Regions from separate parts of the Homo sapiens genome. Here region 1 is linked to region 2. Evidence: fine-mapped expression QTL. A gene starts in region 2. The other region holds a variant in brackets. All regions are shown on one strand. Distances are from middle to middle.

Region 1 (4,391 bases), 24 kb after region 2:
TTAATTTTTTTGTAGAGACAGGACCTTGCCATGTTGCCCATGCTGGTCTCAAACTCCTGAGCTCAAGTTACCCACCTTGGCCTCCCAAAGTGTTGTGATTACAGGCATGAGCCACTGCACTTAGCCTGTTTTTTTTTTTTCTTAGTTGTTTCCTTGGGTATTACAATTAACATCATTATTTATATTACTCCAATTAGAATTAATACCAAATTAAGCTCAGTAATACAAAGAAATTGCCTCTATATAACTTTATTCCTTCATCCCTCCTTTGTGCTATTATTGTCAAACAAATTACATCTTTACACATTGTGTGCCCATGAACATAGTTATAGTTATTGCTTTATGCAGTTGTCTTTTAAATCAGGAGTAAAAAAGTGTTACACGCAAAAAAATGCATTTATACTGTCTTTTATATTTACCTATGTAGTTAACTTTACAGGTGCTATTTATTTCTTTATGTAGATTTACATTACTAGCTAGTATCATTTTATTTCACCCTGAAGGACTCCGTTTAGCATTTTTTGTAGAAGTTTGTTAGTGATGAACTATCTCAGTTTTTGTTTATCTGTGAATGTCTTAATTTCTCCTTCATTTTTGAAAGATAATTTTGCTGGATGTAGAATTCTTGTTTGGCAGTCTTTTTCTTTCAGTACTTTGAATATGTTGTCCTACTGCCCTCTGACTTCAAGATTTCTAATGAGAAATTAGCTGCTAATCCTATTGAGGATTCCTTGTATATGATGAGTTACTTCTCTCTTACTTTCAAGATTCTCTCTGTCTTTAGCTTTTATAAGTTTATGATGTGTCTGGGTGCCTATCTCTTTGAATTTATCTTAGTTGGAGTTCAGTGCACTTCTTGAATGCATAGATTAATGCTTTAAATCAAATTGGGGGGATTTTTAGCCATTATTCCTTCAAATAGTCTTTCTTGCACCTTTTTTTCTCTCTTTTCTCTCTCCTTTTGGGACTTCCATTATGTGGGTGTTCATATGCTTCATGGTGTTCCACAGACCTCTAGGACTGTGTTCATTTTGTTTACTTTTCTTCTTCCTGTTCCTCAGATTGGATCATCTCACCTGACCTGTCTTCAAATTCACTGATTCTTTACCCTGCCAGCTCAAAGCTACTGTTGATCCCCTCTAGTGAATTTTTCATTTCAGTTATTATGCTTTTTATCTCCAGAATTTCTTTTTTTTTTTTTTTTTGAGATGGAGTTTCACTCCTGTCACCCAGGCTAGAGTGCAATGGCACAATCTCGGCTCACTGCAACCTCCACCTCCCAGGTTCAAGCAATTCTCGTGCCTCAGCCTCCCGAGTAGCTGGGATTACAGGCACACGCCACCATGCCTGGATAATTTTTGTATTTTTAGTTGAGAGGGGGGTTTCACCGTATTGGCCAGGCTGGTCTCAAACTCCTGACCTCAGGTGATCCACCCGCCTCAGTCTCCCAAAGTGCTGGGATTACAGGCATGAGCCACCATGCCCGGCCCAGAATTTCTTTTTCATGTAATTTCTCTTTATTGATACTCTCTACTTATTAGGATATCATTTTATCCTTTCCTTTAAGTTCTTTAAACATAGTTTCCTTTAGTTCTTTGAAAATATTAAAAATCACTGATTTACAGTTTTTGCCTATTAAGTCTAACATCTGGGTTTCCTCAGGGATAGTGTTTGACTGCTTTTTTCCCTGTGTTTGGGCCACACTTAATTTTGTTTCTTTGCATCTCTCATACATTTTTGTTGAAAACTGGACATTTAAATAATATAATGTGGCAACTCTGGGAATCAGGTTCTCTCCCCTCCTCAGGATTTGTTTTTATTGCTTTGTTTTGTTTTTAGTGACCTTCCTGAACTAATTCTGTAAAGCCTGTGTTCTTTGTCATATGTGGCTACCCAAGTCTCTGCTCCGTTAGCTTAGTGGTCAGCTAATGATTGGACAGATATTTCTTTAAATCACCTGAAACCAGTAAGTCTCCCAGACTTTGCTGATGGGCTCTATGTGCATGTCAGGGTGTGCCTTTAATGCAAAGGCAGGCTGTTTACAACTTTGCCTTATCCTTCATTTCCTGCTTGTGCAGAGTTTTGAGGTCAGCCAGAGATCCTAGGCATACATACAGCCTTATGCGTATTTGTGGTTTTCTAGATTCCCAGGCATATGTCAGAGCTTTTTAAAGCCTAATAATGGACTGATAATGGATATATAATTACCTAGATTTTCCTTTTAAGTTTTCTTGAAAAGCTTGTTGTTTTTTCCTAAATGTTATCACTGCTGTGTTAAACAGTTGCTGCTAATT[G/T]TTTCTGAAAAGCACCCCCAGAGAAAGCTGTTTATACCAGATGAGCCCCATGAGTGGAGTATTCAGGATAGTGCCAGACAGATCAAATAAAGACAGTTCTCTGGAAATGAGATTTTGGAGGAACTCCAACCCTGTTCTGCCTCCTCCAATGGTTGCTAGTCTGCTGGTTTTCACTGGAATTGCAGGGCTGTTGATTTTCAAGGCTCTTGTGGAGGTGAGGAGAAGGGGATGTGTACAAGAGAAGTTCAAATGCCACAGCTTCCTGTTGTTACCAAGATTCAGCCATTTTCTTGAAAAAATGCTTTCTGAATTGTAAACCTTGGTCAATTTCCAGAGTTCTGATAAGTTTGTTTTGACAATTTTTGCCAGTGTTCTCATTGCTTTTAAGCAATTTTAAGGAGGAGAAGACAGGCTCTTACATTTCTGCTGACATCACCTCCAGGCATATCTTGTTCTTTCCCGGCCCCAGCCCAAAGATAATAGTATTTCAAAGCCAAGATCTGGGAACTAGATTTACTCATTGCTACTGGAATGTTCTTGCTTCAAGGCCCTCTCATTGTACACAGCTAGGACATTTCATTTCTTTATGTATATATATATAATTTCATATATGTGTATATATAAAATTGTTATATGTGTGTGAGTAGAAGAATCAAACTGTTTTTTCTTCTGCTCTCACAATACCATGTGTGGAGGCTTTTACACACACACCAAGAAGCAATTAATTCTGCAGCAAATTAATATACCAGCTGGATGTCCTGCAATTCAATTCTGACACTATCTACCTGGAGGATAGCATCAGATCACACAGGTTAAGGGTGTAGTCCCACAGGACTAAGCCCTACTTCTAATGCTGATGGCAAGCCCCAGGTTATTTTACCTGTGCTTCTGACCAACTAGCTATAAATCGGGGTCCACAACCCCTTCCTCAGGTTCAATTAGTTTGCTAGTGTGGCTCATGGAACTCAGGGAAACACTTATTTACATGATCGGTTTATTGTAAAGAGTATTACATTACAAAGGATACAGATGAAGAGATGCAGAGGACGAAGCATGTGGGAAAGAGCACAGAGCTTCCATGCCCCACCCCCAGGTAGCCACCCTCCAGGAACCCCACATGTTCGGCTATCCAGAAGCTCTCCAACTCCATCCTCTTCAGCCCTTCATGGAGACTTCATTGCATAGGCAGGATTTATAACTGTATAGAAATGTGATGGGACAGCCAGGCGCAGTGGCTCACACCTGTAATCCCAGCACTTTGGGAGGCTGAGGCAGGCGGATCACCTGAGGTCGGGAGTTCTAGACCAGCCTGACCAACATGGAGAAACCCCGTACCTACTAAAAATACAAAATTAGCCAGGGGCAGTGGCGCATGCCTGTAATCCCAGCTACTCGAGCGGCTGAGGCAGGAGAATTGCTTGAACCAAGGAGACGGAGGTTGCGGTGAGCTGAGATCACACCATTGCACTCCAGCCTGGGCAACAAGAGCGAAACTCTGTCTCAAAAAAAAAAAAAAAGAAAAGAAAAGAAAGAAAGAAATGTGATGGGACAAAAAGGGTGTGATCTTGTACTAACAGACTGAGTGGGGAAACCCAGCAAGGCCTGTCTGTTCAGAGCCTTAGACTCTCTCTGCAACATCCCTTCCTTCTGGGTATTGGGCAGGACCCCTTCTAAAAGGGAGGTCTTTTTTTTTCTTTTTCTTTTTTTTTTTTTTGAGACAGAGTCTCACTTTGTCACCCAACTGGAGTGTGGTGGTGTGGTCTTGGCTCACTGCAGCCTCTGCCTCCCGGGTTCAAGCAATTCTCTTGCATCAGCCTCCCAAGTAGCTGGGACTACAGGTGTGTGCCACCACACCCAGCTAATTATTTTTGTATTTTTAGTAGAGATGGGGTTCACCATGTTAGCCAGGCTGGTCTTGAACTCCTGGCCTCAGGTGATCCACTTGCCTCTGCCTCCCAAAGTTCTGGGATTACAGACGTGAGCCACTGCACCCAGCCTTTTTTTTTTTTTTGAGATAGAGTCCGTGACTCTGTCGCCCAGGCTGGAGTGCAGTGGCGCAATCTTGGCTCACTGCAACCTCCGCCTCCTGGACTCAAG
Region 2 (4,391 bases):
ATGTGAACATATGTCAGGGGTGTGTGTTTGAGAGTCGTTGCTCACCAATGTACAGCAAAATCATTATTGGGGCCCCTTTTGTACGCCTATTCCTGCTGAACAAGATGGAGACAGTTTGGGGGAGCCTAACCTTTGCCTTAGTGAATTGAGGCACTCCTGAGGTGAATCCTCATTCCTCTACAAAACAATCTACAAAAAATTAATTTCTGGAAATTGAGCCACGTGGAAAAATGAAATGGTGCTGGGGCCACAAGTACTAGGAACCTAGGAATGGGGACCCCAGGAAGAGGCGCAGCCTGGAGATAGATTCCCGAGGAACCTGAATTCAGACCTAAAGGAGTCAGAAAGATCTGTAGACCTGCAGCTGTTCCTGTCCCCAAAGAGGGCACCGCGCCCTGCACAGCTTGTTTGCTTCCGTTACTGGGCAAAAAACCAGGGAGCACATACTTCAAGACATTGGAAAATATCTGATTTGCGGGGAGATCCCCATCTGGGTAACACTAGGATTTGGAATGCCAGAGAAGGAATCCTGAAGGGAGGAGAAAAGAGTGGCCAAATCAAAGGCCTGGAGGTGGGACTGAAGCTGGCTGGGTTGGAGGAGGGAGTAGAGGATGGTTTGGGAAGTGTTTGACTTGGGTACTGTGGAAGCCTAGGGGAGGAGGGGATAGAATCTGAGACCTGGGGGTGAGGGGTTCCTGCAGACAGTGGCCAAAGGCAGCCCTCGAGAGAGAAGGAGAGGACATTCCTGGCAGAAGTTACAACACATGCAAAGGTACAGAGGTTGCCCCCTTCCTACCCCTCTCCTTAGAGGTGGGTTAGAGATGTATCCTTTTTACAGATGAGGAAACCAAATCTCAGAAAGATTAAGTCACTTTCCCAAGTGTATGGTGGAGGCCCCACTTGAACCCAGGCACTGTGTCTCCAGACCCCACACTATTACTGCCTTGTTTAAACCAGCCAATGATTTAATGAATAAAGGATGAACAAATGAATAAGTGGATGAGTCACCTGAAAATTCTGCAGGCAAAAGAGACTCCATATCTACTTACTTCTTGCCTATCTTCTGCCACCTCTCCTAGTCCACCATCACTGCTCACTATGGTCAAGGTCCTACCCAATCTGGCCCCTGCTACCACAACCCCCTTCAGCTTGTTCCAGCCACATTGGCACTGGATGTTTCCTCTTCCTGGCACATTCTTAAAAAAATGTGTTGATCATAAAGTGAACATGACCCTTTGGGAATTAACTGGAGTTCTTGTATTCCCTCATCTGTAAAATAGACATTATATTATCCACCCCACTGGATTGTTGTGAGGGTTGGATGAAATGATGCATGTAAACAGCTTAGTTAAGAGTTGGGTACAATCAGTGAACAAATGATTATGAATTAGTGCTTTTATTGTAGTCAGAATCATAAAGATTTGACAGGTTCCCATATCCCACCTCTGCTTGGACTACCTCATTTGCTCATATGCAAACATTATTTGGTACCTACTGTGTGTGCACCATGGGATGGGCCTGCCTCTGTGGAAAGTTCTTGGGTGCAGGGGGAGACAGCCATGGGCACTGATGACATCAGGTAGTTATCGTGAGTTTTGGCGGTGTCCAGAGCAAAGGGATGGTGGCGTATATACCAAGTGTGTTCTGGTGTGGGGGTGGACACGCACCAGGGCTAGGGCTGCAGAGAATGTCTGTGTTGCAGATCTAGGTTTCTCCATGATCATCGGTGGGAATGTGTTTTGTCTGCAAGTGTATGCTCATATGAGTTTCCCTGGGTCTCTGTGTGTCAGTGTGTTACCTGTGTGTGTGGGGGTATGGGTGTATGCATGCATGTATGTAACATGCCCATGTGTGTTACTCTGGACTTGTATGTCTGTATGTATACCTAGATTGGCGTGTGTTCTGTCTGTACATGCCCTCGTATGTTTCCTCACTTTTGTGTGTGTTTATATGTGTGTCATTTCTTGTGTGCCTCCAGGCCCCCCTTGCCACCTTGGGCAAGGGTGTGTACACCACCCAAGTGTCCACCTCCGCTTGTCTGATGCTGTCTGTGACGCCCCCGCTCTCTGCCTAGCTGAGCCTGTGTGGATGTGGGAGACTAATCTCCCCGCGGGCACTGCGTGTGACCTCACCCCCCTCTGTGAGGGGGTTATTTCTCTACTTTCGTGTCTCTGAGTGTGCTTCCAGTGCCCCCCTCCCCCCAAAAAATGCCTTCTGAGTTGAATATCAACACTACAAACCGAGTATCTGCAGAGGGCCCTGCGTATGAGTGCAAGTGGGTTTTAGGACCAGGATGAGGCGGGGTGGGGGTGCCTACCTGACGACCGACCCCGACCCACTGGACAAGCACCCAACCCCCATTCCCCAAATTGCGCATCCCCTATCAGAGAGGGGGAGGGGAAACAGGATGCGGCGAGGCGCGTGCGCACTGCCAGCTTCAGCACCGCGGACAGTGCCTTCGCCCCCGCCTGGCGGCGCGCGCCACCGCCGCCTCAGCACTGAAGGCGCGCTGACGTCACTCGCCGGTCCCCCGCAAACTCCCCTTCCCGGCCACCTTGGTCGCGTCCGCGCCGCCGCCGGCCCAGCCGGACCGCACCACGCGAGGCGCGAGATAGGGGGGCACGGGCGCGACCATCTGCGCTGCGGCGCCGGCGACTCAGCGCTGCCTCAGTCTGCGGTGGGCAGCGGAGGAGTCGTGTCGTGCCTGAGAGCGCAGCTGTGCTCCTGGGCACCGCGCAGTCCGCCCCCGCGGCTCCTGGCCAGACCACCCCTAGGACCCCCTGCCCCAAGTCGCAGCCATGAACTACCTGCGGCGCCGCCTGTCGGACAGCAACTTTATGGCCAATCTGCCAAATGGGTACATGACAGACCTGCAGCGTCCGCAGCCGCCCCCACCGCCGCCCGGTGCCCACAGCCCCGGAGCCACGCCCGGTCCCGGGACCGCCACTGCCGAGAGGTCCTCCGGGGTCGCCCCAGCGGCCTCTCCGGCCGCCCCTAGCCCCGGGTCCTCGGGGGGCGGTGGCTTCTTCTCGTCGCTGTCCAACGCGGTCAAGCAGACCACGGCGGCGGCAGCTGCCACCTTCAGCGAGCAGGTGGGCGGCGGCTCTGGGGGCGCAGGCCGCGGGGGAGCCGCCTCCAGGGTGCTGCTGGTCATCGACGAGCCGCACACCGACTGGTAAGCCACTGCCGCGGACGTCTCCCGTGGGCCTGGGTCCCCAGATCGTTCTTCTGCGAATGAGCAATTATCGAGCGCCGCTTGTGTGCCTGACACCTGGCCCTCTCACCTAAATCTTTTTCCTTTAAATTATTAAGCTGGATGCTTCCTCTGTGCCCCGCCCTTGTCGCCCCCCTCCGCCCCTTAAACCTTGATGGATCCAGGGAGCAATTATCAGGCACCTGCTGCGTACCTGTTCCCTACTACCCCTCCCCCAAAAGTCTTTGGCTTCAATATATCCTATGAGCCTTCGAAAACCGAACGTGTCCTTCCTACCCTCCCCAACCCTTGCCCCATAGGCCTTGTCCTCTAATGGATCTTGTGAGCACTTATCTAGTACCTGCAGTATGCCTCATCCAAGAGCCCTTCCCCAAGGCCTTTGATTTCAATGAGGTTTGTGAGCATTCTTTGAGAGCCTGATACTGTCCTGTTCTCCTCAACCCTTGCCCTGAGGCCTTCTCTAATGGGTCTTGTGAGCATGTGTCCAGTCTATGCTATGTGTCCCACCCCAGCTCCGTCCTTAAAGCCCTTTTAAACTATTTAGTAAACATTGAGTACCTGCTGTGTATCCCACCCCAGCTTCTCTCCAAAAGCTTTGCCTTTCATGGATCCTGTGAGTTTTGATTGGATGCCTTCTCTGTGCCCCAACTCCAAGCCCTCTCTCTGAGGGCCTTTTCTCCAAAGGATCTAGGAAGCATTTGTTAAGTGCCTGATACGTGCCGCACCCCCAAACCCCTTCTCAAACAAATCATTTTCCTCCAGTGAGTTCCATGAGCAGTTTTGAACCTTCTTTGTGTGACTCATCTTCAGACCGTCTCCTCAAAGACCTTTCCCTACAGTGGATCTAGAAAACATTTATTGAGTGCCTCTTGTATCCCCCGTTCTCCAGCTACTTCTTCAAAGACCTTTCCTTTGGTGGATCCATCTAGCATTTATCAACTGCCTGCAGTGTGAGCCTTCTCTAAAAGTTCTTTCCTCCAGTGTATTCAGCAAGCATGCATTGACTGGTGCCTGCTGTATACCCCACCCTCAAACCCTTTCTGCAATACCCTTTCCTCCAGTGGCTTCAGTCTGCATGTATTGAGCACTTTCTGCATGACCCAACCTTAGACCTCTCCATAAAGGCCTGTGCCTCCAGTTAATACAGTGCTCAGATATCTGGCACTTGCTGTGTGTA

Evidence for each region. PIP is the estimated chance that this variant, and not a neighbour inherited with it, causes the effect.
Region 1: its variant is fine-mapped to the expression of SYN1 in whole blood (TOPMed, PIP 0.98).

The regions. Positions count from the first base shown.
Region 1 is chrX:47,594,150-47,598,540 of GRCh38, reverse strand. The region is part of intron 5 of SYN1 (synapsin I); the gene reads left to right. Among named protein-coding and RNA genes, the nearest start is that of MIR4769, 8.9 kb to the right of the region's middle. The variant G/T (reference allele first, on the strand shown) is at 2,295.
Region 2 is chrX:47,618,136-47,622,526 of GRCh38, reverse strand. It overlaps SYN1 (synapsin I), which reads left to right and starts at 2,670. Exons shown (of 13, transcript NM_006950.3): 1 at 2,670-3,175. The coding sequence starts at 2,799. RefSeq lists silencers at 2,447-2,656, 2,363-2,657.